3 separate regions of the Homo sapiens genome follow, and regions 1 and 2 are each linked to region 3. Evidence: fine-mapped expression QTL. A gene starts in region 3. Each other region holds a variant in brackets. All regions are shown on one strand. Distances are between the middles of the regions. Region 1 overlaps ABCB1 (ATP binding cassette subfamily B member 1). Region 2 overlaps CROT (carnitine O-octanoyltransferase). Region 3 holds the start of ABCB4 (ATP binding cassette subfamily B member 4).

Evidence for each region. PIP is the estimated chance that this variant, and not a neighbour inherited with it, causes the effect.
Region 1: its variant is fine-mapped to the expression of ABCB4 in whole blood (TOPMed, PIP above 0.99).
Region 2: its variant is fine-mapped to the expression of ABCB4 in whole blood (TOPMed, PIP above 0.99).

Annotation. Positions count from the first base shown.
Region 1 is chr7:87,493,478-87,504,739 of GRCh38, forward strand. It overlaps ABCB1 (ATP binding cassette subfamily B member 1), which reads right to left. Exons shown (of 28, transcript NM_001348946.2): 28 at 9,540-10,972. The coding sequence ends at 10,766. Among named protein-coding and RNA genes, the nearest start is that of ABCB4, 23 kb to the left of the region's middle. The variant A/G (reference allele first, on the strand shown) is at 5,563.
Region 2 is chr7:87,374,193-87,385,454 of GRCh38, forward strand. It overlaps CROT (carnitine O-octanoyltransferase), which reads left to right. Exons shown (of 18, transcript NM_021151.4): 8 at 1,440-1,533; 9 at 1,636-1,761; 10 at 3,157-3,258; 11 at 7,718-7,801; 12 at 7,882-7,989; 13 at 8,221-8,351. It also overlaps a transcript of ABCB4 not described here. Among named protein-coding and RNA genes, the nearest start is that of CROT, 34 kb to the left of the region's middle. The variant A/T (reference allele first, on the strand shown) is at 5,949.
Region 3 is chr7:87,470,362-87,481,623 of GRCh38, forward strand. It overlaps ABCB4 (ATP binding cassette subfamily B member 4), which reads right to left and starts at 5,319. Exons shown (of 28, transcript NM_000443.4): 1 at 5,273-5,319; 2 at 5,025-5,110; 3 at 2,260-2,314. The coding sequence starts at 5,104. RefSeq lists an enhancer at 4,506-4,575 and silencers at 5,046-5,185, 5,196-5,395, 5,446-5,695.

The DNA of each region.
Region 1 (11,262 bases), 23 kb after region 3:
AAAGCACAATATTAATAATTTCTTTAAACTTATTCATAAAGCTACTCCTAAGAAAAATAATCCTAACAATTCCAAGAGCAGGGAAACAATGCCAAAGACAGATGCAGGTGAAGAATGGAGACATGGAATAAAGAAGGTGTGATGTTAATTTGACTGAGTCAAAAAGTAGATAAGGATATGGTGGAATATAAAAGAGATTTGATACAGTAGAGGCTAAGAACTAGGAGGAATTTAGACTTTCAGAGTTTATTGAGAGGATTTTGAGAAAGCAATGATTATACTGGTCAAGAATGGTGGATTCTTTTGCCATAATTTGAATTGTCATGTATCAGTCAAGGTCTCAGCATGAAACAAATGGCATATTCAAATTAGGATATTCAAGGAGGATGTAATGAAGGAACTATTTAGAAAGGTAGGAGTAGAACATAGGGCATAGTGGATATACCATAATAGATAGCAAAATATCTTGGGGCCACAAACACTGGGGAGGTGTATGGCCTTCCCTAGGCCAGCATGGATGAGGGAAAGGAGCAGTTCCCAGAAGCCATATTGAGCATCATGTAGATAGAACTGCTTCAAGAAGAGCAGTGATCCACCCCAACTGTCTCCAGGCACCCCCTTCAGCTGAACCCACAGAAGTCAACTTCCTAAAGTAAACAGCAGTGTGGAGGGGAGGGTGGAGAATAGATATGGAATGGCAAAAGGAAGATATCTGGCACATGTCTGAAGCTGAAGAATCTGGAAACTGCCAGCAGGTATTTTAACTCTACCATTTCCTGACTAGCTATGTCTGTTCATGATTCATGCAACACTTTTATTTGTTTTGTCCTTCCTTCTTCCTCTACTTTTACTTTAGGATCCAGGGGTACATGTGCAGATTTCCTACATGGGTAAATTGTGTGTTGCTGAGGCTTGGTGTACAAATGATCCTGTCATCTAGCTAGTGAGCATAGTACACAATAGGTAGTCTTCCAAAGCACACATGCCCCCACCTTTCCCTCTCAAGTAGGCCCCAGTGTCTATTGTTCCCATCTTTGTGTTCATGTATATTCAATGCTTAGCTACAAATTATAAGTGAGAATATGCAGTATTTGGTTTTCTGTTCCTGCGTTAGTTTGCTTAGGATAAGGGCTTCCACCTGCATCCATGTTGCTGCAAAGGACATGACTTCATTTTTTATGGCTGCATAGTATTCCATAGTATATATTTACCAAATTTTTGTTATCCAATCCAACATTGATGGGCATCTCCATTGATTCCATTTCTTTGCTATAGTGACTAGTGCTTTATGCAACACTTTGAAAGACAGCACCCATTGTGTCAAGACATTGTGTTGAGACAGTGAAGACACAAAGATAGTAAGATAGAGACTAGCCCTTAGGTATGTAAAATAGCTATAAACAGAGTGAAAATAGGAAATAATTAAAATATAGAGTGAAACATAAAGAAATACAGAAAGCATAAGGGAGTTCAGTGCAGAGAATTTTCATAGCTAACTTATGACTTTAGCCTTGATGGGCAATGCAATAAAATTGTTGGCTAAGGTAGCCTTTCTAGCATAAATGCAAATATCAAGAATTTTAAAAGAAGTATTTAAATCTAATTTCAGCTATCAATGAATGAATTTAATTTCATTACTATAACAAAAAATAATCCATAATCAAAATTTTAGCTACTCAAAAAAGTTGCTTTCTGAAGTAAAGTATATGATAAACACAAATTCATAAATGCTAATTTTTTTGTGAAACACCAGCATTTTGTGTTTAGTCTCTGACACTTTTAAACAGTCCTAAAAATATTTGTTCTCGTAAAGGAAATCCTTAGTATTGTTTTAAATAAACTTTAACCTATTTCCTTTTTGGCATATTTCTCTCCAGGCTTTGTCTATATGCATATGTTCTTGACCTGGACTCTCTGAATCCAAAGAACTTTATACCATTCTTTAATTAAAAGAGGTAGAATATTGTGGTCATGGGGTTTTTCAAATAATTCGGGAAATCTCAGCCATATTTTGGCTAGACCTGGCACTATCCCAAAATAACATGGAAAATCATTGATAAGTCCTGCATGAGTCATCTGTTTAAACTGAAGAATTGGGATAACGGTGTCATTGCCCATGCTGATCGAGACGTTTTGCACAAGAGAGAGTTGACAAGGGACAATGAACTCTTTCGGAAATTAAAAAATAATTTGTACTAAAATCTTGATGAAAATAGAAAGCCTCAACTGCAAACTGGCTTGAATATATAACTAAAATATTATATTTATGACTTAGATAATATTGTTTAGTTTTGTCTTTCTATTCTTGATTTAAAATAATATATATATAATATATATATATTTACACACACAAACATACATATATATTCCTTCCCTCACCTTGCCTTTCCCCCCATCCCCAAATAGAATAATGTGATTCCCTGCCTATGATATTAGAATGCTGTGTGCACCAACCCCCATGCTTGTGGTTGAAATTCTACAGATACAAAAGCTCTCTTGCAGTCTACCCACACATTCAGGAGTCACAAGGCAGGTGTCTGAAGTTGGTCCTTTTTTCCCTTTACTTATGGAATTTGTAAAGTGTTATATTTTCATCTTTATAATGGAAAAAGTAAAATGTGATTTATTTTACAAAATTTCACCGCACAGGTACATTTGAAAGAATAAGGCCACTCTAAAGTGAGGCATATCTCAACACTCATATTATTTCAAAAGAATCACAACAAAAATAAAAATAATAAAAGCTATTCTGGCACACAATATCCTTCAGGCTCAGGTCCTGCCTGGCCCTGCCCCATTCCTTGGGGCCTCTACCCACCCTTCCTCACACCCAACATCTAAAACTCTGACCGCACTGAATCACTTCTGGTTCCAGCCTTCTAAACTGTTCTATACTGCTCTCCACATCCACACTCCTCCTCTATTGTCCATCTGACATGCATCTATTCCATTATCCAGGAAGCTTTTTATTTAATAGACTTTCTTTTTTCGAGCATTTTTTAGATTCACAGCAAAATTGAGTGGAAGGTAGAGAGACTTCCCATGTACCTCCTATTTCTACACATTGATTGCCTTCCCACCAGAGTGGCACATTTATTGCAATGATTCCTCTACACTGACACATCATCACCCAAAGTCCAAATAGTTTATTTTAGGGTTCACTCTTGGTATTGTACATTCAGTGGGTTTGGGCAAATGCATAATGATATGTGTCTACCACTGTAGTATCTTATAGAGTAGTTTTACTGCCCTAAAAAATTATCTGTGCTTCATCCCTCACTCCCCCAATCTCTAGCAACCACTGATCTTTTTACTATCTCCATAGTCTTGCCTTTTCCAGAATGTGATGTAGTTGGAATTATACAGTTTGAACCTTTTCAGATTGGGTTCTTTCACTTAGTAATATGCATTTAATTTTCCTCTGTGGCTTTTCATGGCTCATTTCTCTTTAGCATTGCGTGATATTTCATTGTCTTGATGTAACACAGTTTTTCATCTATTTACCTTCCAAAGGACATCTTCGTTGCCCTGGAATATTTTTTAGCCCTTAAACCACTCTCCAGAGAGGTAACTGCTCTTTTCTTGGTCCCCACTACCACACCCCACCATCTTGCATCATGGCATCAATGCACATTACTAAACTTATGTCCTGTCTCCTAAGCTGTAAGCTCCTTGTCTAATCATTGTGCTCCCAATATCTAGGCCAGTAGGCACTTAAAATAATTGCTACATGGATAAATACAAAAATTCCTTTTCATGCAAGAGAAGTGGTAGCTTTGAAGAGCAAGAAAAATATGAAATGAAGGCAATCAGCTTTTTTTTTTGCTTATATCTTAAGTATTGGGTATTGTCTTAAATACTTCATTACAGTATTTAGTGCTCAACTAATTCAATGAGGTAGACATTGAAATTCCATTTTTTCCAATGCAGAAATAGGGGCTTAAAAAAAGTAAGTAACTTGCCCAAGAAGCCACACATTTTAGCAAACTGGCAGCCAGAACAGAAGCCCAGGTTTCTCTGACTGGAGAGCCTAGGAGCTTGGCTATACACCAAGCATAATCATACTCTTACACAGCGTCTTGTGTAGAGAAGGAAATCATTTAAATTTAGCCACCCAGTTGAGAAAGCGAAAACTGGGTTTCAACTCAAAGGTCACTTTTCCTTTTGACCCAAACTGACTCTTTTGAAAGAGCCCAGGTAAAAATATTTCATCATATATCTTTGCCCTTGCACATATCTGTAAGCATTCCTGCTTTTCTCTTTGCTATTCTGATTTCTCCAAACTGCAAGGGCAGAGGTCTTTCATCTCAGTGTCGGAAGTTCCAGCTGGGACAAAGGACTACAGTTGCAGGAAGTGCTCCCTGAAAATCTTGTGTTTAATCTTTGTTTTTTCCCAAGAGCAACAAATCTCTTATTTTTTTTCATTTAACAAATATTTTTATTGAAGACTTTTGATATGCCAAGTATTGATAGAGGTATTGATGTATACAATGATAAACCAGGTGCCCACCATGATATTGCAGCTAAGAGGGATTTTTTTGAAGATCAAGAGAGTTAAGGTCACTGAAAGTCCTTGATAGGCTCTGGAACTAGGAGGGTTATTACTTGTTCTGGTTATGAATTGGCTTAAAACAAATGGTTTTTATGATATCTTCTAGTTGTATAGATTGACTGGGCTCTGCTGAGGGTTCTCATCTCATGAGGTTGCGGTCAGATGCTTATTGGGTCCATCTTGGGGGCTGGCACTTGATGCTGGCAGTGGGCTAGGTCAGGTTACATAGTCACCCCATGTAACATGGGCTTTTCATAGAATAGTGACTGGATTCTGACAGTGCAGGATCATCACAGTTCAGGATCTGGTCCTTGGCTTAAAATACCCTGAAACCTATTTTGTCAAGCAGGGGTCTCAGAGGGAGACCCTGGAGATGGTGGGCACAGGACAGGAGCAGCAGAACCTTCACCAGGAGGATCCCCCCTGGTCCTGTGACCCATGCGTCCAGCTCGGGGCCCTCAGGTGGGGGCTGCAAAGAAGCTGGTTGTCCCTTGAAAGCTGGAGCAAGTGAGCAGGTACACTTGGACCTGAGGCTGTGGTTTTTCCCCAGGCTGAAGTGGATCTTGAGGTGGCAAGGAATGGAACAGCCTGGCGCCCTGGGAGAGTGGAGGGTGACTTTGAACTGGGCATCAGCAGATGTATGCCCAGCAGCCACTTGCTTTTCCATTACATGTGAATCAGCAGGGCCAAGTTCACCCTTGGAAAGAAGTTGTAAAAATCGGTTGATGCCTTTGAAGGCCTTTGTTTTGGAGGCTTCTTTGAAGGGTCTTGCATCCAGTTCTGACCTTGGAGCAAGTGTTAAGTGGCCTCGAGGAATGTCACTGAGGCTCCTTTTGGAACAGATTCAGGAAGAAAACGCTGTCTTGAAAAGTGCTCTCTTCTCTTTGTGCAGGGGAGATTCAATAAATATCTCTGTTGTATAACATTCCTTGTATTATGTAACTCTTAAAACTTTTACAAATGACTTTCATATACATCATCTGATTGTTCAGACTTAAAGGGTGTCAGAC[A/G]TCTGCTGTTGATGGCTGTGCTTTTTGAACAAGGGTAGTGAAGTAAAAACTCCCTCCCTTCCTGCCCACCCCCTGTTATGTCTCTTCCTCCATGTCTTACCCCTCCCCCTCCTCCCATCGCTAGGCTTGTTCTTTACTTCTTCTTTCTGGGAGGTGAGGTGAGAAGGGGGCTCCTACATAGCATCCTGTGTACCTGTCACCCAACTTTCTTCCATGATGACATGTAGTGACTGTAGTTCAAAATCAAATCCAGAACACTGAAATTGGTACAATACTGTTACTGTACTACTACAACTTTCATATATATATATTTTCTTTTCTAAAATTAAGAGCACACAATTTGCATAAGTCTTTTCTCTTTTATTCTGTATAGTGGGTAAGGCTCAGTCCTCAGGTGTTACTGTAATGATGGGCTTCCCTATTTTTCATGTACAATTACATGGCTTTAGATAGGAATCTTCTTTATATATTTTATATTAACAAAAGCCTTTTTAGATATTAATTTGTGATAAAATGAAACTGACCCAGAAAAAGTACACACTTTTTCACACACACAAAAAAAATTGGCAAAAGAACAGACACTTATTGAGCCTCTGCTATATGCCAAGGACTTTGCCAAACACCGGAACACAGTGACGCAAAGACAGTCCTCTCTCAAAGGGTTCACACATCAGAGCATGAGCCTTAAGCTGAGATATAAGAAAAACGCATTTCTAAAAAAGACCTCTTATTGAGACCTGGGGACAAATGGCTGCATTATGTGTCAGGAAAGAGACTGAAGCACATTTTGTCCCAACATCAGGAGTTGATTCTGGTGAACCAAACAGAAGAACCACCATTGTTAAAGTTGGGTATAACTGGATAATCTGGGGTGGAACTAAGAAAATAAAGAAGCCTGGGCTAGAAAAGGATTGAACTCAAACAAGTCGCACATGCTGGGATCCATCTGTGTTTTGCCTATATCTTGAGGGCCACACCTCAAACATCTATTACTTTGATATCATCTTCAAGCCATACAAACAAATCCTCCTCCTTCTAAAGAGTTCCTCATCTCCCTCACTGTCACAGTATTTCCCAGCTGGCCTCTATTCTCCCTCCCTCTCTTACTAGGCTGTGAGTGTTTCTCATAGCTACCTGTTCTCTGCTTTTACCAGCCCAACTCAGAGCCACATTACCCTCGTCGCTTGCATGTTTTCTCTTAAATAAAAGCATCTTATTTAGCTTCATTGATTTGAGGCATGTATTAGTTTCCTGAGACTACTGTGACAAATTACCACAAGCATGGTGGGTTAAAACAACAGAAGATTCTCCTCTCCTAGTTCTGGAAGCCAGAAATCCAAAATCCAGCAGGACTACAATTCCTTCATGGACTCCAGGGGATAATCCATTTTTTTGTCTCTTCCAGCTTTTGGTGGCTGCTGGCATTTCTTGACATGTGGCTGCATCACTCCGATTTCTGCTCCCATGATCACATCACCTCCTCTTCTTCTGTGTCAAACCTTCTTGTGCCTCACTTTTATAAGGACACTGGACCTTGGATTTAGGGCCCACCAGAATAATCCAGGATGATCTCCTCAAGATCTTTATATCTGTAAAGACCTTTTCTACAAGTAAAGTCACATTCATAGTTTTTGAGGATTAGGATCGGAGATGCCTTTTTGGAGGCCACCATTCAACTCACTGCAGGGCTTTTCCTGTCCAATCCCTCTGAGTGGGTATCAGTATTTTCACCACATTATGCTCCTATTCAGAGTCATCAATGGTTTTTCATTTTCTCTCTCTTCAAATCTGAATTACTCTGCCTGGCATTCTAGGCTTACCACAATTTGGCCCCACCTAAATTTGGTACCCCACCAACATCCCATAATTTACTTCACCAGACATTTAGTAGTGTCTACTATGCCTAAGACACTGTTTCTAGGCTTTTGGGGACACCAAGATAAATACAGTGTCACCCAGCCTTCACAGAGCGTGTGGCCCTGCTGAGGAGACAAATTTACACAGCTGACTATGAAACACAACACAACAAACAACACAGTCCCTTCCCACCAGGCAGCCTCTGCACTATGCACACTCCCGCTACTCTGCTGCATTCATCCATTCTCACACTGCTATGAAGACCAACACTTGGTCATTTATAAAGAAAAGAGGTTTAATTGACTCACAATTCCACAGGCTGTACAGCAGGCGTGGGTGGGGAGGCCTCAGGAAGCTTATAATCATGGCAGAAGGGTGAAGGGGAAGCAAGAACATCTTCCCATGGTGGCAGGAGAGAGAGAGAGGGAAGCAGGAAGTGCTACACACTTTTAAACAATCAGATCTTGCGAGAACTCACTCACTATCATGAGAACTTGCTGTTCTGCTGCCACAATCCAATCGCCTCCCACCATGTCCATTCCCCAACGCTGGGGATTACAATTCAACATGAGATTTGGGTGGAGGCACAAGAGCCAAACCATATCACATGCTTTTAACTATTATCCATGATGTGTGACACAGTTTGGTACTTAATCACATAGTCCTACAGCTTCACTACTGTAATCACCTTTTGTGTCACTCAAGAAAATGTTTCTTAAACATAAGAACTTCTGCTTCTCTTACTTTTTACCAGAGTTATTATAGGAGTGTTACAAATAATGGTGTACATGTCTTTGTGTGAGACTTTGCTTGTACTAAAATCATTTGTTGCATCTGAGATCACTGGTTGAATGTGGTAATTGACCCTGTGAGGTAAATTTGGAGAAAATAAATGGTGTGAAAAAGAGCACCCCCTCTCTGACAGCCTTTAATGCTAAAGGGGCAGCAATATACTCAAGCAGAAAAAGCTGGAGGCCCTGGGAGGGGCTCCACCTCCATGCAACTCCAGCCAGGGCAAAACAGTGAATAGGGAAACATGGTTCAGAGAGAGCCAGCGAGTGTCACCAACTACAGCAACTAGACTGTGCAAACGACAGTAAAAAATACTTTTATTTTTCTTTTTATAGACATCTAAGAATTTTTATCCCAGCTACTCAGGGGGCTGAGGCAGGAGAATCGCTTGAACCCAGAGGTGGAGGTTGCAGTGAGCTGAGATCACCACTGCACTCTAGTCTAGCCTGGTCAACAGAGCAAGACTCCGCTTCAGAAAAAAAAAAAAAAAGAAAGTGTCCTTACAGCAGACATACAAAGAGTTGAGGGAAAAATCTTTAAGAAGTCAAACCAAGTGACATGGTTTTATGCTTCTATTCACATAAATTTATCGAAATTTCCTAAACTAAGCACACTTTTTAAAGCCTTAAAATTTTAAAACAAAAGCTGAAAACTTAGGAGATAAAATTGTTTCTAATTCTGGTTTATTTTGGATTGTCTCTCAGAAGTTTAAATATATATATAGTATATATAATTATATATATTATATATATTATATATATAATATATATTATATATATAATTATATATAATTTTATATTATATAATTATATATATTATATATATAATTATATATATAAAATTATATATAATTATATATATATAAAATTATATATAATTATATATATATAAAATTATATATAATTATATATAGACTGTATCTATAGTTACAGATACATAAATATAGATAGATAACTATAGATACATAAATATAGATTTATATTATATATATAATATTTAAAAAGCCACCATATTGTTCAAGCCATTTGGCAACCATTTTTTCTTTATACAAATTATATTTTGTAATATTCTTCAACATAATTTTCTAATGATTATATGGTATTCCATTTTGTGAATGCACCAAAACTTAATGTATAATTTCTTACTGTTAAATATTTAGATCTTTCCAATTTTCAATATTATAAGTAATGCTACTAAAAGTATCCTTTTACATATCTCTTAAATCCTTATAATTACAATTGCTGTCTTGAAGGATATACATTTACATTTTTTACTTACATTATCAAATAACAAAGAAGTTTATATCAATGACCAATTCAACTAATAAGGAATGTCACATTAGATTTTTTTATTCATCATTAAATTACAAGGCAAAAAAATGATATTTTGTTTTAATTTGCATTTATTTGATTGTTGAAACTGTATACATTTTTCTCATGCATTTCTTCTTTGAGAATTACCTGATTATATCCTTTCCTATTTTTTTTTCCTGGAGGTGATGGCTTCTTTTTTTTATTTTTAGAAGTTGCTTATTTAAGATAGCAATTGTTTATAGTAAATATAGTTTATAATGTTAATAATGCTTTTTGGCTAATTTAAAAAAATTTGTCGTCCAGAGTCCCAACCTTTGGAATATATTTTTTTCTTTTTTTATCATGTTTGTATCAAGATGTAGTTAAACTCATGGCACATTTTAAACATCTGTAAGTCAGAAGGATCACTTTTGGAAGAGGCCAATTACTGGCAAAAGTGATTCATTATCAAGACAAAAAGTAAATGTACTTTGGAAGTGTAAAAATCTTAAAAAATCCTTAAAGAACCCTTTATAAAAGCAATGCAAAGTATTTACTATACATCTGAATAATATGCACTTCATAATTGTGCCTCACCCCACCTCCTAAAATCTTATATCGATCTGTGTTTTGGGTTTGAGAGCCACCTTAATGTGGAAATGCAAGAATCAGCAGGATCAAGTCCAAGAAGAATGAAGCCAGATGGTTCTGTAAGACCCAATGTGAATAGACATATACAACAGGAATTATTTAAACTGCTTAACCATTCCCACAAAAATGAGTAGGTATATTTAAAGAAAACTTTTTTAAAGCAGAAGTTATCTACAATATTCCAATTGAGAGAAGATATATTCACAGGCAGTTTGGACAAGATGACTCCAGTCACATGAAAGTTTAGTTTTATTATAGACACTTTATGCAAACATTTCAATACTTTTTGCTACTTCTATAATCTTTTAGCAAGGCAGTCAGTTACAGTCCAAATGGGAAAATATAAACAAAATTACACATTTTATCTTTTAAAATCTACTTTAATTCTGTTATAAAATTTATAATGCAGTTTAAACTATGATTTCTCTCCACTTGATGATGTCTCTCACTCTGTTCCTTTAATTACGAAGTCTCTGAAGACTCTGAACTTGACTGAGGAAATGTTAAACAGATACCTCTTCATAATTCTGTAAGTGTTTGCTTTTAACTTTGAATAAATGTCATATCTAAACAAATATTAAAAAGTATTTAACATCTCATACAGTCAGAGTTCACTGGCGCTTTGTTCCAGCCTGGACACTGACCATTGAAAAATAGATGCCTTTCTGTGCCAGCAGCTGCTGATGCGTGCCATGCTCCTTGACTCTGCCATTCTGAAACACCACTATTAAGTCTGCATTCTGGATGGTGGACAGGCGGTGAGCAATCACAATGCAGGTGCGGCCTTCTCTGGCTTTGTCCAGGGCTTCTTGGACAACCTATTCCATAATCACATAGATTAATTCTCATAATAGTTCTTTTCCCTAATTCCTCTTCCATAAAAAGCTCCACAGTAGGACGGGCATGGTGGCTCACGCCTGTAATCCCAGCACTTTGGGAGGCCAAGGCGGGCAGATCACAAGGTCAGATTGAGACCATCCTGGCTAACACGGTGAAACCCCATCTCTATCAAAAATACAAAAAATTAGCTGGGCTTGGTGGTGGGTGCCTGTAGTCCCAGCTAGTCGGGAGGCTGAGGCAGGAGAATGGTGTGAACCCGGGAGGCAGA
Region 2 (11,262 bases), 96 kb before region 3:
AAAAACAGGTGCATAGTTAGCCAAGTTAAAGGAAAAGAGGGATTATCTTGTTACCAAATCTGTATCTCTTAATGGTGGCGATTTGGGCAGTTATGTGACCTTTTATTATCAAACTTAAAATGTCATTTCAGGTTTAACACACTTTCCTTTGTAATTTCTCCCTAATAATGACCACCTTGTAAAACGAACATGAAAATGATCATTTCAGGGAGGAAGTAAAAGTTTCATAGTCAAAACTCGTGCTTTGAGGTAGTTGGTAAGGGAAAGGTAGCAACAAGTACCATATGGAGAGAAACAGGTTGATTTTATTTAGAAATTCAGAGTTTATGCTAGTAACCACAACTGCAAAAGCTTTACTTATAATTGGAGCAAAATCAGTAGTTACTAAAGAAAGTAAGCAGGAAGAGAGGCAAAGCAAGTTGCTCTGCTATAGATGCAGATTGGTGAAGAAACCCTTATTCTGTTCCTCAGGACACCATTAATTTGCAAATAACAAGGGGGGAATTTTTCAGCAAGAAATGTATTTCTTTATCAGTGTTACAGATATAATGAACAAACAGAGGAGAGTATGCAAATCAGTAGATAAATGATGAATTCCAATTTTGAATGATGAAGTCAGAACTGATGGCTACTAGTAGCATTTTTTGACCATTTATTAAGCTACATTAGCTCACTTCCTGAGAAATCCTTGAAAGCTTTTAAATTGAAGTAATTTCTTAACATGTGCCATGAAATTGAGCTAAATTAAAGCTCTGTGGATTTTTGACTGATGTAAATTTCTTTATGGGAGAACCCAGTTATTTATCTGCTGTATGTTTAAAGATACATGAAATTCACCAATCTAGGAGCATAAAATACTGTGGAGGGGGAGTAGTTTATCCTTAGCTAATAGAGTCTTTAAAAATATAATGATTAGAAGTAACAAAGTGGCACATATGAAAATAGTTAAAACTGATTATATGGTATTTCTATTTTTTTTTGGTAAAACACAAATATTAATTGAGTATACAGTAAGTCCTCTGGTTAAATATATACGCACATAGATTTTAGTTAGATAAGATGTACATTATATTTGTGAAATTGATTACCAGGATATTTTTCAAGTTCTCCATTGTAAGGATATTTACAGTAAAAAGGATATTTACTTGCAACCTAGAAGTGCATGCACATTTCCAAAGTATATATCAGCGAAACTAAATTTAGCCAATAACTAAATTTATTTACTGAAATTAAATTATTGTCAAATATGCTTTTGGTGTTAATAGAACACAATCACTTAAAAAAATATGTGATGTAGGAAATCTATTGGCATCATAAGTGGTTTCTTTGGGTAATATATCCAAACATTTAAATATTGATCAATGTTATGACCTTTTAAAGGCCAAAGTAGTTACTTTCTGCCTGTACTCTTTTTTAATCTTCTTTTCATCTTCCATAAGACAACTGACATATATCCACAAGAAGTGCCATAGTGAACCTGATGGACCTGGGATTGCAGCATTAACTAGTGAGGAGCGAACTCGATGGGCTAAGGTTCTGATTTACACTTTTCTTAACGAAGCTTTTCTCTAACAAACTCTTTTGATGTATTGTATTTCAGTTGTAATATTTGATCATCATCTCCTTGCCCTTTAGGCACGAGAATATCTGATTGGTCTTGATCCAGAGAACTTGGCTTTGTTAGAAAAAATTCAGAGTAGTTTACTGGTATATTCCATGGAGGATAGCAGTCCACATGTAACACCAGAGGATTATTCTGAGGTACTTAACTACCTTCTCTTTTTTTTTTTATTGCAGATTTTTCTGGAAGACTCATATTTATTGAACATGGAAGTTTTTTTTCTTTTTCTACCTTTAGGCTCTTGAAACTTTTTCTTAGTTATACAATATACTTGTGCCAAATTGAAGCTTATAAAGTAGATAGTAAATTGGTAAATCCTTGCCACATTGTTTAAGTTTGTTTAGCTATATATTATACTTTGTTTAAAGAAGTATGACTTTGCATATCACATATCAGTGTTGCTCAACCTTTTCATTGCTTGCCTACTCAGAAAATTTACACAGAGCACTAGGTTAATGAGCTTTTCTTGCCAAAGGTGAAATGATAACCTAATCATAACCTGCACTAGTGTATCTTGACACCATAGTTGGGACTGTGTCTCCTAAGAATTATGTCACCCTTGTAAGTCATTTATTTTATCATTTGGTTAATTGCTGAACACATTGATGTCAGTGACGTTAAGGGTAAATATGGCCTTATTTTATGCTCCCCTGCCACCCCCAGGGTGACATTTGTGTCCCAGGAAATAATAAAAGATAGTAATTGTATTAGAAATCTCATAGTCTTTTGAAAATACTTAATTATTTTATAGTGAATTAATCGGTATTAAATAATAGGAAAAAATATCAAGGATTGGAAAACCTTGTAGCAAGGAGAGAGATTTTTTTTTTTTTTTGAGAATCACCAGACTTCTTTTTAAGGAAGAATGTATTTTAATGCAGTGTTGTTCAAAGTTTTTTGACCACAATTTTTAGTTACAAATACATTTAGATTGCAGCCCACTATATATACATGTGTATATGCATGCAAACACATATATAAAATAGGAGTTTCACAGAGCACTAATTACTTTTATTGTCTGTGAGGTACACTGATATTTCCAGTCTATTTTATTCTCCTTTTTTGTAAGGAATATTGATTATGATGCACTGAGTTAATTTCATGATCCATTAATAGGCCAAAGTATACAGTTTGAAAAACAGGTTTAGTAGGAAACGAATTCTTAAAATATTTCCTCCTAACTAGACTTTAATGACTAAACTTTTATCAAGATCTTTTATCCTATTCAAGTTACAAAACCCTTATCCTCTCAATTCTATGTTCTGTAAACATTCATGAATATTGTACCAGCATTTTCTTTTCTGGTAGGATTTTCTTAACTTGAGATTTTGAGAAGCCCCTAAAGTCAGGGCCAGAATTACTCTCTCTTGACTTTGCATATCACATATCAGTGTTGCTGATCATAACTATATTATGATTTTATTAAATTTGGTTGACGTGAAGAGGAATGGTGAGATGATATATGTGTTTAAGATGTAAATTCTTACAAACCAATATTAAACCCTTTTAATTTGGAAAAATTAAATTTATTTTAGATTATTGCAGCCATCCTTATTGGAGATCCAACAGTACGCTGGGGTGACAAATCCTATAACTTGATTTCCTTTTCTAATGGAGTATTTGGCTGTAATTGTGATGTAAGTAAACTACTGAAATTTTTCTCTTTTGATCTTTTAGGTTAAATTAATGACAATAAACCATAAATACTTGTGCTGGGGAACAGTGTAAGTGAATAGTAATTTAGTTTTATGGCACTGTGGTGAAAAGTTTAGTTATGAATTCTCATTGAAAGTATAGGACAAGTTATTTTCTTCTGTAGTAAGGCCAACAGTTTGTTGTGTACTATATCTGCAAAATGGGATTTGCATATAATATTTATGTAATATAAGCTCTTAAAACCCAGTATTATCTGCTTGCTGAGAATACCTATTTCAAAAGGTATTATATGGCATTATGTATGTGTTCTATGCAGAGCAATGCATATGGATATATTTATAGAGTTCAAGATTCACCTAGTAACTAGGTAACTATTTTCCTAAAATGACACATAATCTTTGGAACACTATTTAGGCTGTGGATATTAAAATGGCAGTTACTACCATTTTGACCATTTTCATAAAAAATGAACAACTTTTCTTGCTTCTCCTCTGTTCCCCTCCCATGGACATCTTCACTAGCTGTCTACTAACTGTCTGATAGGCATTCAGGAGGTCTATGAACCAAGAAAATTTTTTATAAAGGGGTTTGGGGCTGGGTATGATGGCTGATACCTGTAATCCCAGCACTTTGGGAGGCCAAGGCAGGTGAATCACTTGAGCCCAGGAGATGGAGACTGGTCTGGGCAATGGCATGAAACCCCGTCTCTACAAAAAATACAAAAATTAGCCTCACATGGTGTTGTGCGCCTGTGATCCCAGCTACTTGGGAGGCTGAGGTCTAGGAGGATCGCTTGAACCTGGGAGGTTGAGGGTGCAGTGAACAGTGTTTGGGCCAGTGCACTTCAGCCTGGGAAACAGACTGAGACTCCGACTCCAAAAAAAAAAAAAAAAGGGTTCAGTAGTTGTATTAATCCATATTCAGGTTTAGGTGATAGAAACCTAAATCAAACTAGCGTTAGCGTAAGAAGATATTTGTTGGCAAGGAGTTAGCTAAATTTGGGTAAAGCTGACTTCAATGTTCAAATGCTTTCATTAGAAATCTCTCCCCATTTTTTGGTACTGCTTTCTTTTGTTTGGCCTCATATTTAGGTAGACTGCCCAATGTGATTGTTGTACCAACAGTCTCATATCTTCATAGCTTTCTTCATAGACTCCCAAAGGAAATAGTCAGCTTCTTTGTTTCCAATGGTTACAGCAAAAGTCCTGGAATAATCCTCATCAGTTGTGATTGGCCTGTGTGATTCATGTCCCCATCCTGGGGAATCAGGTGCTTGGATGAGCTTGGCCTGGGTCACATGCCCAACCTTGGAATCTAGTGGGTAGAATCAGTCTCATTCAAACCACTACAAAGTGGTGCTTGGTTGCCTAAAGAACAGTAAAGTAGCTGTTATTTCAGAACAAGGTGGATTGGTTAATAGGCACTGAAAGTAAATGTCTATTGGAGTATCTCATCAGAGCTACAGTGAAAAGTTGCCACAAGTCATTTATTTTGAAGATGTTCTCTTTACTCTTCCTTTGAGTCTACTGTTGACAGAATAGTTCTTGTTAATTGCCTCAGTTTTCTTCTCTTCAGCTCCTCATTTGATTCTCCTTGACCTTCCTCAGTCTGGTTTATGTCCTTACCATTCCTTGCAAACTACCCTTTGTAAGGTGGTTAACTGCCCCCTGGCTTCTTCCCTTCATTTCCCTTTGACCTGTCTGCTGCAGTTGGTTACCCTCTGCATACATATTTTGACACTGCCTCTTTCCTCTTAACAGTATTTTCCTCTCTACTGATTCTGAAACTGACCTTAATATTCATCACACTTTTCCCCCTCTGACCACTTTATTGACCTATTGTTATATATGTAACTTGCAGCTATACTTTTCTAGCTTTTACCTATTATTCTCATTTGAGAGTTGTGTTTCATTATATGTTAAATTGTTCAAATTGGATGTTATATTGTTATATAAGAGTAAGTCAATCTCATCAAGAATAACTCATCTTGCTTTCCGTCCCTCATCCCCAAGACCATCAAAAAACACCTTTTGCTAAACTGATTTTTACTAATAGCACCAGTATCCTGCTGTTCACACAAATTCAAGATGAAAATAATTTTGATAATCTTGTCTGTCTCTGAATAAAGAATATTGGGCTCATAATGAGCATATCTCTCAGCATAACTGAACTGCTTTTTTATAGTGTGCGGACATGTTTTATGTGTGTGCATTAACATGCATATATTCATAAAATTGATCTGATTATCTCCACCTGATAATTTGCATTAAATTCCATGGAGGTTTCCCTTCTAACCTAAGATGATTATAGAGGGTGCAGTTTAACCTTTGTAAATCATCATTAGTGAAATACATATGCTGTAGGCCAAACATGGGAGCTCATGCCTATAATCCCAGCACTTTGGGAGACGAAGGTGGGAGGATTTGATTCCAGCAGTTCAGCACCAGCTTGGGCAACATAGTGAGACCCTCATCTCTACAAAAAATAAAAAATTAGTTGGGCATGGTAATGCATACCTATACTCCCAACTACTTGGGAGGCTGAGGTGGGAGGATCACTTGAGCCTAGGAGGTCCAGGTTGCAGTGAGCCATGGTTGTACCACTGCACTCCCACCCAGGCAACAGAACAAGACCCTGTCCCAAAAATAATAATAAGAAGAAAAATAAGCAT[A/T]TGTACTGTAAAATAAAGCTTATTTTACCCTAAAGCCATGTTGCTGGTCCATAATTTTAATTGTTTGAATATGTTCTTTTGTGATTATATTAATTCCATTTCCCTCCTATTTTATAAACCTGAAGTCAACTATATTGTCTTCTCTATATTGTAGGCTTTATTGTAAGGCTTTGCAGAGGGTGCATAGGAAGCATGTAAAAACTTTAGTTAATAATAACAATAGTTACTAATTATTGCTGTGAGCTAGATCCTTGGTAAGTACTGTGTAAGTGGTATAAAAATCATTTTTCACAGCATCTGTATGTATGTATGCATTATCTCTACAGGGAAATGAGGCAGTTTAATTAGAAAGCAAAGTAACTTTTTTACTATTGCCCAGCTAGGAAGTAGTTTGAACTCAGAACCAAAGCCTACATTCTTAAACACTATGTAAATACATATTGCCTCTGTGTAAGTGCAAGAAATGAAAGGTAAAAATTATGTGAACAAATAAAGCATCAGGATAGCATTGGAATTTTATATATTTTCTACCTTCTTTGAGATTATTAGCTTTCCATTAGGAGATGGGTGCTTAGAATTATAGCTCAAAGAGACATCCTTCACTCTTGCTATTTCCTACTGGCTCCAGTAAAATAGTTGGAAACTGATGCTGTTTGTCTTAAATGAAACAATATATTTGATAATATCTGAAAATTCTTTGTAAAATTGTAAAGTACCACACAGTTGTGAGATACTGTTAGAAAATGGGTTTGTCAGCGACCTGTGAGTCTTGTCATGTGTGCTGTTGTTGGCAGATAAACTGCTCAGGCATCTTATACTGACCTCCCTCAAGAGCCTTTCCTGATGTAGTTGTTGCCTGGTTGGTAACAATAAATCCTGTTTATAGGCTCCGCTGGGCCATGATACAGGCTACAGAGCTATAGTGTTAGGGTGACATTTAAGACACCTAATTACTCCTCTGAAACTGGGCCCATATCTTGATACTACTTCCCTTCTTTCCCTCCCAAGCTCGCAGTGTCACGTTCAGATCATGAATGATATCTGTGTCTAATGTAAAGTGGTGACAGTCACAAGGAACCGTCTGATGTAACTTTTATCTAAGGAACATGGGGAAAATGCGGGCAAAAACTTTGTTCTTCAAAATAGATGATGGGAAAATTCACTAACTGCAATTTCTTTCTCTAAATACACCTGGCAAACCTGAAACAGCCCCGTAACACCCAGCCTATCTTTCCCACATTTCTTAAACTGAGAATTATCACATTGGGACATTCATATGTATAAAAAACACAAAATGGTTATGCTTTCTAATATTCACTAAGTGGCCTAAGTCCTTACCTAAAGAAGTTCATGCCCATCCCAAATGCTTTCAGATAGGTTGCCATCCCCATCTGCTTTTCCACCCTGTTCTTACAATTCCAGAACATCTTCGTGTTGCATATATACACTTGCTTTGACTTCTAGTAAAAATAGCAATTAATTTATCTAGATTGTTTATATGTTATTTTATACACCCTCATGACCCCAAGCCCCACCAGAAGCCCTACTAGGTGCTTCCAAATTTAAACAACTTTTTTTCCAAAAAATAAAATATAGCAGTTACTGAACTGTAGGGAATCTTCTATCTTATCATATCCTCAAGAGGTGAGGCATTTGAAGACTCTATGCTTTATTATCTGTTAAGAATGGACACAAAGTGAAAATAAAATATTGGGTCAAGTTTTAAGTTGACATAAAGTATTCAGAAATCTTGTGTGTTCTCATTTTAGCATGCTCCTTTTGATGCAATGATTATGGTGAACATCAGTTATTATGTGGATGAGAAAATTTTTCAGAATGAAGGAAGATGGAAGGTATGTTTGAATAAATATTTCATCTTTTTTCTCCTAATAGTTCTATAGATAAAATATTTTTAAGTCTTCCCTATTTTCAGGGTTCAGAGAAGGTACGAGATATACCACTTCCAGAAGAGCTCATTTTCATTGTGGATGAGAAAGTTTTAAATGACATCAACCAAGCTAAAGCCCAGTATCTCAGGGAGGTATATTTTTCACTTTTCTCTTAAATAATAATGATTTTTTCTTTTAACAACCATATGTAAAAATTTGGCTGTCATCCAAGCATGTCTGCACAAAACATTTTAAAATTATGCCTTTAACACCTTTAATTCTTTATGTCTGGTGATTACTTTAATGCAGGTGATAATTTGCTTCTCTTTGGTGTATTCTCCTTAGGTGATTTTTCACCGTTCTCATTTAATTCTTCTTGTTAGGCATCTGATCTACAGATTGCGGCTTATGCCTTTACATCTTTTGGCAAAAAGCTAACCAAGAACAAGATGCTTCACCCGGATACGTTTATTCAGCTTGCACTTCAGCTGGCCTATTACAGACTTCATGGACAGTAAGGACCATTCAGTTTCTATTTTCACAGTCTTGAAGTCCAAGGGTATATCTTTTTTTATAGCTATTTCATCCTAACTCCTCAGTATTTTTGCTCACTTTTTTCCCAGCTGGTACTGTGTCCTATTTGTACTTCCATCAATAGAGTATTAGATTTCTGATCTGTGGTGGTTTCACAGTTTTTCCTTGTTACTTTATCACAGTATCCACTTGATAACTTTTGACGTGTCTATTCTCATCTGAAAGAGGATTGGTCATCTTTGGCATTCAGATCGCTTGGTTTTCTTGCAACGTCAGTTTTCTGATGGGTTCATGAAAAGTTGTGATTTTATAAATTATCCAGCCTTTACTCATTTTTAGAATAGGAGCGACATTAATTTTGTGACTTAATACATCCTAAGAAGAAGTAGAAGTCCCTCAATGTTGCTTTTTCATTGATAAATAAGTTATAATTGAACATATTTATCAGGTACATGTGATTTTTTTGATACATGCATAAAATGTGTAATGGTCAAATCACGGTAATTGGGATGTCCACTGCCTCAACCATTTATTACGTCTTCGTGTGGGGAATGTTCCAAGTCTTCTCTTCTTGGTATTTTGAAATATACAACAAATTATTGTTAACTATAGTCAACCTACTGTGCTATCGAACACTAGAAGTTATTCCATCTAACTGTACCATTATACCCATTAGCTAACTTCTCTTCAATCTCCTCTCCCCCCTACTCATCCCAATCTCTGTTAACCACCATTTTACTGTCTACTTCCACGAGATCAATTTTTTTTAACTCCCATATATAGGTGAGAACCTGCAGTATTTGTCTTTCTATTTCTGGATTATTTCACTTAACAAAAAGTTATCCAGCCTTACCCATGTTGCTGCAAATGAAGGGATTTCATTCTTTGTTTTTTTATTTTGGCTGAGTAATATTCCATTGTGTATGTATATCACTTTTTTTTTTTTTTTTGAGTCAGAGTCTTGCTCTGTCGCCCAGGTTGGAGTGCAGTGGCATGGTCTTGGTTCCCTGCAACCTCTACCTCCTGGGTTCAAGCAATTCTCCCTGCCTCAGCCTCCTGAGTAGCTGGGATTACAGGTGCCTGCCACCATGCCTGGCTAATTTTTATAGTTTTAGTAGAGATGGGGTTTCGTCGTGTTGGCCAGGCTGGTCTCTAACTCCTGAGCTCAGGTGATCTGCGTGCCTTGGCCTCCCAAAGTGCTGGGATTAGAGGTGTGAGCCACCACGCCCGGCCCACATTTTCTTTATCCATACATCTGCTGGACACTTAGGTTGATTCTATATCTTGACTATTGTGAATAGTGCTGCAATAAACATTGGAGTGTGGCTATCTCTTTGATATATTGATTTCCTTTCTCTTGGATATATACCTAGCAGTGGGATCATCAGATTGTAGGGTAGTTCTTTTTTTTTTAGTTTTGTGAGGCACTTTCAGACTGTTCGCCATAGTGGCTGTACTAATTTACATTTCCACCAACAATGTATGAGGGTTCCCTTTTCTCCACATCTTTGCTAGCATCTGTTATTGCCTATCTTTTTGATAAAAGTGATTTTTAACTAGGGTGAGGTGATGTCTCATTGTAGTTTTAATTTGCATTTCCCGATGATTAGTGATGTTGAGCATTTTTCATATACTTGTTGGCTGTTTGTATGTCTTCTTTTGAGAAATGTCTATTAAGATCATTTGTCACTGGGCGCATGGCTCACACCTGTAGTCCCAGCAATTTGGGAGGCCGAGGTGGGCAGATCACCTGAGGTCAGGAGTTTGAGACCAGCCTGGCCAACATAGCGAAACCCTGTCTCTACTAAAAATACAAAAATTAGCCTGATGTAGGGGCACATATCTGTACCTCTACCTACTCAGGAGGCTGAGGCACGAGAATCCCTTGAACCTGGGAGGCAGAGGTTGCAGTGAGCTGAGATCGTGCCACTGCACTCCAGCCTGGGCGACAGAGCAAGACACTGTCTAACAACAACAAAAAAGATTATTTGTCCATTTTAGATCAGATAAATTTGTGTGTTGCTATTGAGTTTTTTAAGTTCCTTATATATTCTGATTATTAATTTCTTGGGAGATGGATAGTTTGCAGATATTTTCTCCCATTCTGTGGGCTGCTGATTGTTTCCTCTGCAGTGCAGAAGCTTTTTAACTTCATATGATCCCATTCGTCCATTTCTGCTTTGGCTTCCATACTTGTAGGGTATTACTCAAGAAATATTTGCCCAGTTCAGTGTCTTACAGAGCATCCTCAATGTTTTCTTTTAGTAGTTTTATAGTTTCAGGTCTTATATTTAAGCCTTTAATCCATTTTGATTTGAATTTTGTACACGGTAAGAGATAGTGGTCCAGTTTCATTCTTCTGCATATGGATATCCAGTTTTCATGGAGCCATTTATTGAAGAGCCTGTCCTTTCCTTTGCTGAAAAGGAGATGCCTGTAAATACACGGATTTATTTCTGGGTTCTCTATTCTGTTCCATTGGTCTGTATGTCTGTTTTTATGCCAGTAACATGCTGTTTTGGTTACTATAGTTTGGCGGTATATTTTGAAGTTTGGTAATGTGATACCTCAAGCTTTTTTTTTTTTCCCCTGGTATTGCATTGGCTATTCTGGGTCTTTTGTGGTTCCATATGAATTTTTGGATTTTTTTTTCCTATTTTTGTGAAGAATATTGTTGGTATTTTGATAGGAATTGCATTGAATATGTAGATTGCTTTGGGTAGGATGGACATTTTAACAATATTAATTCTTCTAATTAATGAACATAGGTTGTCTTTCCATTTTTTGGTGTTCTCTCACTTTCATCAGTGTCTTATAGTCTTCCTTGTATTGATTTTTTTACTTTTTTGGTTCAGTTGATTCCTAGGTATTTTATATTCTTTGTAGCTATT
Region 3 (11,262 bases):
GACAAAAATGGGATCTAATTAAACTAAAGAGCTTCTGCACAGCAAAAGAAACTATCATTAGAGTGAACTGGCAACCTACAGAATGGGAGAAAATTTTTGCAATCTACTCATCTGACAAAGGGCTAGTATCCAGAATCTACAAAGAACTCAAACAAATTTACAAGAAAAAAACAACCCCACCAACAAGTGGGTGAAGGATATGAACAGACACTCCTCAAAAGAAGACATTTATGCAGCCAATAGACACATGAAAAAATGCTCATGATCACTGGCCATCAGAGAAATGCAAATCAAAACCACAATGAGATACCATCTCACACCAGTTAGAATGGCAATCATTAAAAAGTCAGGAAACAACAGGTGCTGGAGAGGATGTGGAGAAATAGGAACACTTTTACACTATTGGTGGGACTGTAAACTAGTTCAACCATTGTGGAAGACAGTGTGGTGATTCCTCAAGGATCTAGAACTAGAAATATCATTTGACCCAGCCATCCCATTACTAGGTATATACCCAAAGGAATATAAATCATGCTGCTATACAGACACATGCACAAGTATGTTTATTGCAGCACTATTCACAATAGCAAAGACTTGGAACCAACCCAAATGTCCAACAATGATAGACTGGATTAAGAAAATGTGGCACATATACACCATGGAATACTATGCAGCCATAAAAAATGATGAGTTCATGTCCTTTGTAGGGACATGGATGAAGCTGGAAACCATCCTCAGCAAACTATCGCAAGGACAAAAAACCAAACACCTCATGTTCTCACTCACAGGTGGGAACTGAACAATGAGAACACTTGGACACAGGAAGGGGAACATCACACACCGGGGCCTATTGTGGGGTGGGGGGATGGGGGAGGGATAGCATTAGGAGATATACCTAATGTAAATGACAAGTTAATGGGTGCAGCACACCAACATGGCACATGTATACATATGTAACAAACCTGCACGTTATGCACATGTACCCTAGAACTTAAAGTATAATTTAAACAAATTTAAAAAAATAAAGAAAAAAAAACTTCTAAAAAAATAAATAAAACCAGCTTTCATTTGATAAACAATTTATTCTCCAAAGTGCTAATTTTTTTTTAAATTGCCCTTACTGAGGCTTTTTAAACAAATAAAAAAAGAGGAGAGAAGACAATGAATAGGGGCTTTTGGTTACATGAGAAGTATGCAGCAGTGTTTGAGAGTGTGGATGTTTTGGTGTCTTTTTATCCATTTAATTACTAAGTTGGATTTCAGCTGACATGACACTTAATTCTAACTTCTTTGCTACCAAATAATGGCTGTCACAGTTTGAAACACGTCATATTTACCAAAAATGGGCAAATGCTTTCTTGAGCTGCCTCTGTAAGACATATTTCAAATGAAAACCAGATGAGGAGACTTCTTCCAAAAATATTGTCTTGTCTTGTACCAACAGAAAAGCACCGAAAACTGTTTTAAGCATAATCAGAATTCCTAATAGTTACCCCCTATTTAGCCAATTTTTTGGAAACCAAATGTGAATGTAGATTCCTTAAATTAAAATTTATGTACTTAACAATTACTTTCTTGAAATGCAAGCTTATTTTAAGCTAAATTTGGGGTGGGGGTCTGTGAAGCAAATGCAGAAATGCATTTTCTTGAAATTGTTGAGTTTGCATTGTGCTACTAACACAATTCCCATTTTCACTTTCCTTGCACACCAGTTAGCTCTGTCCGGTGTCATCGCCAGCCTGTCTCTACTTTTTAAAAAATCATCCATCTTAAGAATGTGGGTCATTGACTATAATAAGCCAAACTTATACAGCACAGGTGCAGCAAGGACAATTTATTGCTGTCTGCAGACAGTTTTTTGTTGTCGTTGTTTTTGAGACAGGGTCTTGCTCTGCCACCCAGGCTGGAGTGCAGTGGTGTGATCATAACTCACTGCAGCCTCAGACTCCTAAGACCCTCCTGCCTCAGCCTCCCAAGTAGCTGGGACTACAGGTTCATGCCATGACATATGCTATTTTTTAAGATTTTTATTTTTATTATTTTGTAGAGATGAGATCTCACTATGTTGTCCAGGCTGGTCTCAAACTCTTGTGCTCAAGCAACCCTCCCACCTCAGTCTCCCAAAGTGCTGGGATTACAAGTATGAGTCAGCTCGCCTAGCTAGACAATCTTAAAGTATTTGCTTTAAAGGTAATTGATTCAATACCTCAAATTTGAATAAAAGGTAGGATTATTCACATTTAACATTTCACAGCTTACCAATGTTAATACTCCAATCATTTTCACTGTCTTCGTTTTTTTCCTTTTTTGTTTGCTGTAAAAAATAGAATTGCTTCAATTTAAAACTGTTACAAAATGTTTTACAATCAATTGAACATAAATATGTTTAGTTACAATATTCAACTATTATATTTTCAAATATAAGAGTGATGTTCACAAAATGTCAAAATTATTCAGTTCAACAAACATAGCAAGCACAAAAGTAACTGTCGAAGGTACTACAAAGATACATGGATACATAAGAAATGGTCGCCTGCCTTACAGAGCTCACATACACAGGAAAGATAAGTATGCTAACAGTGTCGCTAAGTCAATTAAGTTATTTGTTTTCTAAAATTAAAAAAAATCATGATTTAAAATTAGGAATGTCTATTCTTCTGAAGGATTGTGGAGAGTGGTGTCAGGCAATCTTGTTGGTGATACATTCAAAGTACATCTAGAATTTAACCACTTATCACCAGTTTCATTGCTGTCACCAGTAGGGCAGCCTCCTGCCTAGTCTCTCCACTTCCACCTATGCCGCTTCAGTCTATCTTCAACTAGCAGTCAGAGTAATTATTTCAAAATGCCAAGCCATACACTACTTCTTTGCTCAAAAACCTACAATGGCTTTCCTTTTTCTTACAATAAAAGCCAAAATCCTTGCATTAACCTCTGAGGTCCTACACGATCTGTTTGCTTATTTCCTCTCTGACCACATCCCTACTCCCAAACCTGCTTACTCTGCTCCAACCAGCCTGGACTCTCTGCTGTTCCATGAACTCACCAAACATGTACCTGACTCAGGGTCTTTGCATTGCCAGTTACCTTTTCCGGGAATGCTCTCCCCTTAGATACCCACACAGCTGTCTCCTCTCATTTCTTTCAAGTCTTTGCTCAAATATTACCTTTAAAATAAGATCTACCCTAACCACCCTACTTAAAATTACAAAGTACTCCCCTTTTGTACTCCTGATCCCCTTAACCTGGATTAATGCTTTTTTCCATGGCGTTAATTACCTTCTAACATTGGCTGTGGTTTACTTATTTAGTATGTACATTATTTATGTCTGTCCTCCGTACTATAATATAAACTCTATGAGGGAGTGTGTGTGTGTGTGTGTGTATGATGATTTATATATATATGATGATTTTTACATAAATATGATGCATTTATCCAGGTAAATGATAAAGTTTTACTCATAAGATGATTCCAAATTATGTAAAGTATTGACTAAAATCACTGGACAAACATCTGCCACTAAATATGTTCAAAAGAATGTGCCATGGGCAATAGCAACATAATTAGAACAAGAATATAACTAATTTGATTGAAGCAGGCTTAACTTCCTTTAAATATATTATCTTTGGTCTGCTTTTATAAAAATTAGTTTCACTACATTTGATTTCATAATCATGTGGTCTTAACTTATTGTTAACTTTCTGTATTTCTCTTTTGAGCTGCTTTCTTCTTTCCAGCAGAAGCTGTGGGCTTCCCCTCTGAGGACTTTCCTGGGTTCTGAAGTGTTACTACACCTTTTGTAGGAATAGCTCCTTTGCACACGCATCAAATGTTAAGCCAGTGCAATACATAAATAGACTTCTTCATGAAAATGCCATCTATTAATAGACTCACAGTCAATCCCTGCCTAAACAGCCAGCTGATGAAAACCATATTTTTCTATTGCGTGTGTAAGTACTTCCATTGGAAGTAACACCATCTATCACTTTTTCAATTCTACATGGCAAAACTAAATTTTCTATGAAAAAATACAATGGTGCTTAGAAGAAATACAGCAAGGTTACTGCACAACCACATTAACAGGCTAAAATAATGCTTCAGTTTAAGCATCAGGTAGGCATGTTTTCAGTTAGCTAATCAAGCCCCTAGCAGCTTGAGGACAAACTACAGAGACTGATAAATTTGTCCCTCTGGGTGATCACTTGACACAGGTCAATTTTTTCTGGGTAGCCTGGTATGAACTCAGAGACCGTAATAGCCTCATAAACTATTTCAGGCTAAAGGCGAAAATGATTCACTATTCCCACAGTGAAAGAGGAAACAAAGACACACGCCATTGACTGGGAACTTCTGCCCCGCTCATAAAGCCTGTGAAGTGAGTTTAACAAGGGCCAGGGGAACCGAGAAAGACATGAAGGCAAAGGAAGCGCTGCTTCCCCCTACCACTTGAACAAAACTGATTCGGATGTACAGAAGTTCCCCCTCCCCACCTATCCTCCCAGAAAGGAGAAATACAAATAAGCCTGGCGATGAGAGGAGGGGGAGGGGTAAGACAAGGAGGAAGAGACATAACAGGGGATGGGCAGGAGGGGAGGGAGTTTTTGCTTCACTGCCCTTGTTCAAAAAGCACAGCCATCAACAGCAGATGTCTGACACCCTTTAAGTCTGAACAATCAGATGATGTATATGAAAGTCATTTGTAAAAGTTTCAAGAGTTACGTAATACAATGAATGTTATACAATGCAGATATTCATTGAATCCCCCCTGCACAAAGGGAAGGGAGCACTTTTCAAGACAGCCTTTTCTTCCTGAATCTGTTCCAAAAGGAGCCTCAGTGACATTCTTTGAGGCCACACAACACGTTTGCTCCAAGGTCAGAACCGGATGCAAGACCCTTCAAAGAAGCCTCCAAAACAAAGGTCTTCAAAGGCATCAACCGATTTTTACAACTTCTTTCCAAGGGTGAACTTAGTCCTGCTGATTGGCGTGTAACGGAAAAGCCAGTGGCTGCTGGGGATGTACCTGCTGATGCCCAGTTCAAAGTCGCCCTCCGCGCTCGTGGGGCGCCAGGCTGTTCCGTTCTTTGCCGCCTCAAGATCCATCTCAGCCTGAGGAGAAACCACAGCCTCAGAACCAAGTACACCCTCTCCGGCGGCCCGGCGCACGAGTCGCGGGGCCCGGGGGCACTGGGTGGAGGTCCGGCCACTCCCGCCCCGCGCCCCACGTCCCGGGTCTCCCTTCGAGGCCAGACGCGCCCGGACCTCTCTCACCTCGAACCTCGCGCGTGTCTGGCAGGGCCTCTGGACGCGCGGGCGCTGCAGCAGAGGGGCCTGGACTTTGCTCGCCGCGGCCTCGCCCCCGCCCCCGCCCCCGCCCCCCACGCGCGTCCGGCCCGGGAAACGCCTACCGTTGCAGCCAGGGCGAGGGCCGCGGCCCGCGAGAGCAGCTCCCGCCGCCCGCCCAGCTCTCTCCCCAGGCTAGGCGCGGGCCAGGGGCGCAGCCTGCCGCTCTTGCCGCCGGGGCGCCCGGCTGGGGCCGCCGCCCACCCTGGCGACCCGCCAGAACCAGCCCGGTCGCAGGATAAGACCGAGATCAGGCTGGAGCCTCGGGTGCCGAGAAAGCCTCGCCTGATGGGCCACCCAAGCCCCTGCAGATGACTGTCACACCCCATGGGCGCTCAGTTTTGTTTTTAAACCCATAGGGGAGACAGTTTCCGGACGCCCAACAATCACAGGGCGGCCCAGGACCGAGAGAGAGCAATAGACTCGCCTCTTGCTTCCGCATCCCCAGTTCTGGTCCAGGTGGCACTGAACCCAATTATCTCCAAGGACGGCGAGAGTCAGCCAGGGCCGGCAGGAACCATCACATTATGCTCCTTGGGGAGGAGGAACGCTGTTGGTGCCCTCTTAGCACTTAAGAGACACAGAGTTTTAGGGCTAGAGGGGTCTTCAGCGATCATCTAATTAAAACCCCGTATGTTTAACATATGAAGAAACGGATGCCCAGAGAGGTGAAGTCCTGCCTGAGGCTGCATCGGTGGAACCAGAGTCTAGGGGAAGCCTCCTGAGTCCCAGTCCAGTGCCCTGGCTCACTGCTCTCATCTAAGACTTCTGTCTGTATTGAATTGTCTCTGCTCCTACCACCTATTTGAGTATGACTTTCTTCTTTCTGATTAATTCCTCCACACTCTTCCCAAAAGGAAGTGTCTAAAACGGGGAGCCATAAGTTTCATGGCTTTGAAACCGGAGACTTTCAAACTCAGAGCTTCACATCTTATTAACTATGTGACTTTGGACACTGTGCTCATTTCTCTAGGCCTGTTTCCTTATATGTAAAATGAGGATAAAAACATCTCCCTTATCAGGTTATTGCGAGGAATAAATGAGTTGAGGATAAGGGAATTAAGTACTAGGTAAAAGCACCTAGTACTATGCCTAAAACATAGTAGGTGAGCAACAAATACAACTTTCCTTCCTTCTGATCAGGTAGCAGGATGACCAGTGGGTCCTTGCACCTGCTATGTCCTGTTAACACAATTGTTAGCCCAAGGCTTGTCTGAGTTCTCAGAGAACCTTAAAGCAGAGCATGGTATAAGTAGAGATGCTGGGTGGACCCTGGTGTGAATCTCACCTTTCCCATGTACCAGCTGTCTGGCCAGGTTATGTAATTCTTGACTCAGTCATTGGATCTATAAAATAAGGGTGTTATTAGGATTAGGGATACTGTGTGTAAAGTGTCCTGCACGTAGGAGACACCTAATAAATGGTGACTATTATTATAGTAAAAGTTCAGGCGAGGCCAAGGAAGAAAGACTGGAACAGGAGCCAGCAGCTTCGGCACTCACCCCTTACTTGTGCTGTGCCTCTGCATCCTGCTCTGCCTGCCACCTGGAGCTAAGGTGGAACTTGACTTGAAACTGCATGCTGGAGTAGAAATGAATTTAGTTGAGTATTTTTCCTCAAAATGTTTTCTCTCCATATCAGTCTACCATGACCATGAGGATTCTCTTCTTAAATCAACCCAAATTCCTTCCCTTCACTGGTCTAACAGGCGGTCAGATCATTATTTCAAGATACTCTGAGACGGAAGCAGTTGGAATTGTGTAGTTTGAAAGAAGGCTTGTGGTGACTGGAGGACATTATTAAACTCATTAGCACATAAGGAGATGACAGTTTCTTCAGTCTCTAATAAAAGAGAATTTGATAAAGTAAATGCAGATACTTGAAGGAGTAGGAAGGTTCAGAACAAAAACTAAAGCAAATAACATGTATGAGGCAATGAGGTGTATTTGCCTGTCTGTCTGTCTGAGCCGATTCACAAAGTTGTCCCTGCAAGAAGCCATGCCTATATGGCTGTGTTTACTTCTTTACCTGTATTACATCCAATTCCAGGAGCTCCTTTTATATTTATTTGATAACAGTGCAGTATCACTGAGAATTCCATCATTTATTCATCAACTAGAAGTTGAAGACTTACAATATTTAAAGCACTATGATAAACTAGATTTCTCCATTACACTCAGGCTGTAAGAAATCTTTACTTTCCCTTTACAGTAGAATATTGAGATACTTATGCATTGATGTAAGGCTGGAATTAATGCCCTACCACGCTATCTTACTTTTTCTATTTGCCCCATTGGTTCCATCTTTCTTTTTTATCCTCACTTTTGCCTTATTTTAGATCTGTTTAATATTATCATTTAGATTTCCTTTCTATAAGATGTATTCTTTTATTTTCTATTTAATAATGATCTCCTTTCTAGGGATTATGACATGTATCTTTGACTAATCATTGTACTTTTTCCTCTTCCAGGACAATGCAATGATTTTAGAACTCTTAAGTCTCTTTTTTATTCACCCCTAACTTTTACATTGCCATTGTCATGTACTTTAATTTTCTCTGTATATTCATGACTCTTCTGGGAATATTATTTCTTTATGAGTTGATACTTATTTAGCTTTATCAAAACATTTATCATTTTCTTGCTTTTTGTTTCTTCCTACATCTCAAAGCTACCCTCTTGGATCATTTTCCTTTCACCTAATGAGCACTCTTTCATCTACTGTCTCTTTCTTGTTTTCTTTAGTTTGTGACAAATTTTCTCAGCTTTTTTTTCCTGAAAATTTATTTCACTTTTATCTTGAAAAATTATCAGTTATTTATGGGTTTGCCTTACTAAATAAATATCAAAACTCATTATCAAACTATGGTAATTAGAGACATGTGTTTTGGAATGAGACAGACAAAGTAAAACAGAATCAATATCTTATAACTGATGGAACTAGAATTCGAATCCAGGGAGTATCCTTATCCGCTATGACTAGCAGGGAAGTGGAGATGGAGAACATACGTCAGATGTATCAGAGAGTTAAACACAGTCATTCTTTAATGCATCCTTCAGTCCACTGATCTTACCACCTTTTTACTGTTCCTCACCTCCTTCATGTCTTCTCTCTTAACTCAGCCTGAAAACACCCACAACCCTCTAGCCCTCTCTCTTTATCAGGCTTGCTTAGTAAAACCACAATCCTGGATAATTCAAGTTACTGAGCTACTGTGAACCTACACCATGCAGCAGAACATGTCTGAAGAAAAATACAAAGTCATCGGGCTTGCCTCGCCATGAACTTACATGGCCCTATACTGTATACATAATGTACTTATTATGTTTATTATTTATTGCCCACTCTGTGGGATGCAAGACTTATGAGGGCAAAGATTTTGTAAAATTCACTATGTATCCCAACGTTTACTGACCAATAGTCATAAGATGTTTTCTTAGTTCATTCACTCACCTGCTTTTCTAATAATTATTTCATATCGTCTGTTTTCTCAAATTCTGTTCTTTTACATCTTCACATTCTGCTAAATTACCGTGCTTATTTCACTGATGAAGTTGAAGTGTTTAGAATGGAACTCCATAACCTCCTACCATGATATTTTTCCACTTACCAGCATCTGTACCAACACTCTGCCTTTGCTGTTTCTGTAAATGAACTATTCATGCCTCTCTTTGCAGCCAGTCTTTGTTTGCATGTTCATCCTGTAGATCCCATCCCCTTTCACTTTCACAAGGAGCCATTCTTCCCTTTCTGTCCTATATCATCAATTTCCCCATGCCTGCTGGATCCCTCCTGTGAGCTTACATACATACTGTTATTTCTTCCATCTTGAAAAACAAACAAAAAACCTCTCTTGACCACACTTCCCCTGCCAGCTACCATCATATTTCCCTCTTTTCCTTTGGAGCTAAACTGGTTGGCAAAGTTTATTACTTTCTTCAATTCCTGTTGTTCTCTCTGAAACCCACTCTAAACAGAAGTTTGATCTTTCCACACTACCGAAACTATTTTTATAAAAGTCACTGATAATCTCTGCTTTGCTAAGTCCAAAGATCAATTCTCTGTTCTTATTTTACCTGACAAATTCAATAATTTGACAGATTTATCACTCTGTCTTTCTGAATATATCTTTTTCATATAGATTCCAGGACACCATATGTTTCTCGGATTTTCCTATGCTTTCCTGATCACTCTTCCTCAGTCTCCTTTGATGCCTTCTCTCTCTCTCTTTTTTTCAACTACTTACCTAACACTGGAGTGGTCCAAGGCTCATTCCTTGGACTTCTCAGTCTATTCTCGCCACTTCTGTCATGTCAGTCAGTCACACAGCTTTAAATACCATCTGTATCGAATAATTTCTAACTTTTTGTTTCTAGCCTAAAATTCCCTCTTGCATTCCTGACTCTTAAACACAAGTGCATCTTTGACATTCCTATCTGGATGTTTAACAGACATCTCAAGCTTAACATGCCTAACCTGCTCCTGATCCTTTCCCCAGGCTGGGCCCTCCAGTGAACTTCTGCATCCAGTTGGCAGCTCCAGACTTATAGTTGTCAACAAAAACACTGGAATCATCCTGCATTCCTCTCTTTCTTTGACACACCATAATCAATCTGTCAGGAAATCTTGTTGCCTTTACTTTCAAAATATATTCAGAATCTGACCTTTGCCCTGCACCTCCAGCTCTACCACCATCATGCAAGCCACTATCATCTCCACCTGATTTTCTATAATAGCTTGTTAATTGTCTCTCTGCCTCTGTCCTTTCCTCCTCTTCCGCCTTTGTCCATTGTCAAAAGCATGGCCTGGATGATTCTTTTGAAATGTGAGTCACATCACATCACTCTTCTCTTCACATTTCTGTGGTAGCCCCCAATTCACTCAGTCATGGCCTACAATGCTGTGCCCTCTCCGTGACCTCTCTGATCTCATTTTTATTTATTTTGTCTTTGCCTAACTCCACTCCAGCCACACTGGCCTCTTGGATATTACTCAGACAAGAGAGGCAGCACTCCACCTCAGGGTGTTTGTACTAGTTGTTCCCCCTGTCCAAAATTATCCTCCCCAAAATACTGACATGGAGGACACTCTCACCTCCTAAAAATCTCTTCTCAATTAGAAGTTGGATCTTGTACCCTCAGGACTCTCAGTTCCTCTTATCCTACTTTGATTTTCTTTTCCACAGCATTTATCACCTTCTAGTATACTATATCATTAAAGAATTTATTATGCTTATTGTCTCTTGTCATCTTAGTAGCACATAAGAGCCGTGAGAGTAAAAATATTAATATGTTTTCATTTCATTCGCTGGAATATCCAATAATTGCTGCCCACACTTACTATGTGCAAGGACCTGGGCTAAGGTTTTAGGATAAAAAGTTTTAGGCATATAAAGAAGGATTTAAACAAGGCTAATGCAAAAGTTACTCAGATTATATAGTATTTTATGAATTTACAGAGCCTATCACACATATATATCATCTCATTTGATTCTCAAAACAAGGAGCATGTTCAAGGTAAACAAGTGAGGAACTATTATTCTCAGTTTAGAGGTGGGGATATCAAAGTGAATTTTACACAGCTAGTAAACAATGGAATTAGGCTTCCAGCTCTGGCCACGTGACTTCAGCTTCTCATTCTGTATTCCTATTGAAGACCACTGTTAGACAGAAGCCTTACCTGTTGTATTTCTAGTGCCCACAGCACCAGTGGGCTCAGTAAATGTGTATTGAATAGATCAATATTTTTGAACTATAGCATAAAAGGGTTTGTACAAAAAGAATTTCCTATAAGTAAGAGTCAACAGAGAATAACAAATTCCATCTACCAAAGTATTTTCAAATTATATTCAAATATAAATTAATTAGCAACAATTTTTCCTAAAGAGGGTGCTATGATGGACTCTATTCTCTGTCCTG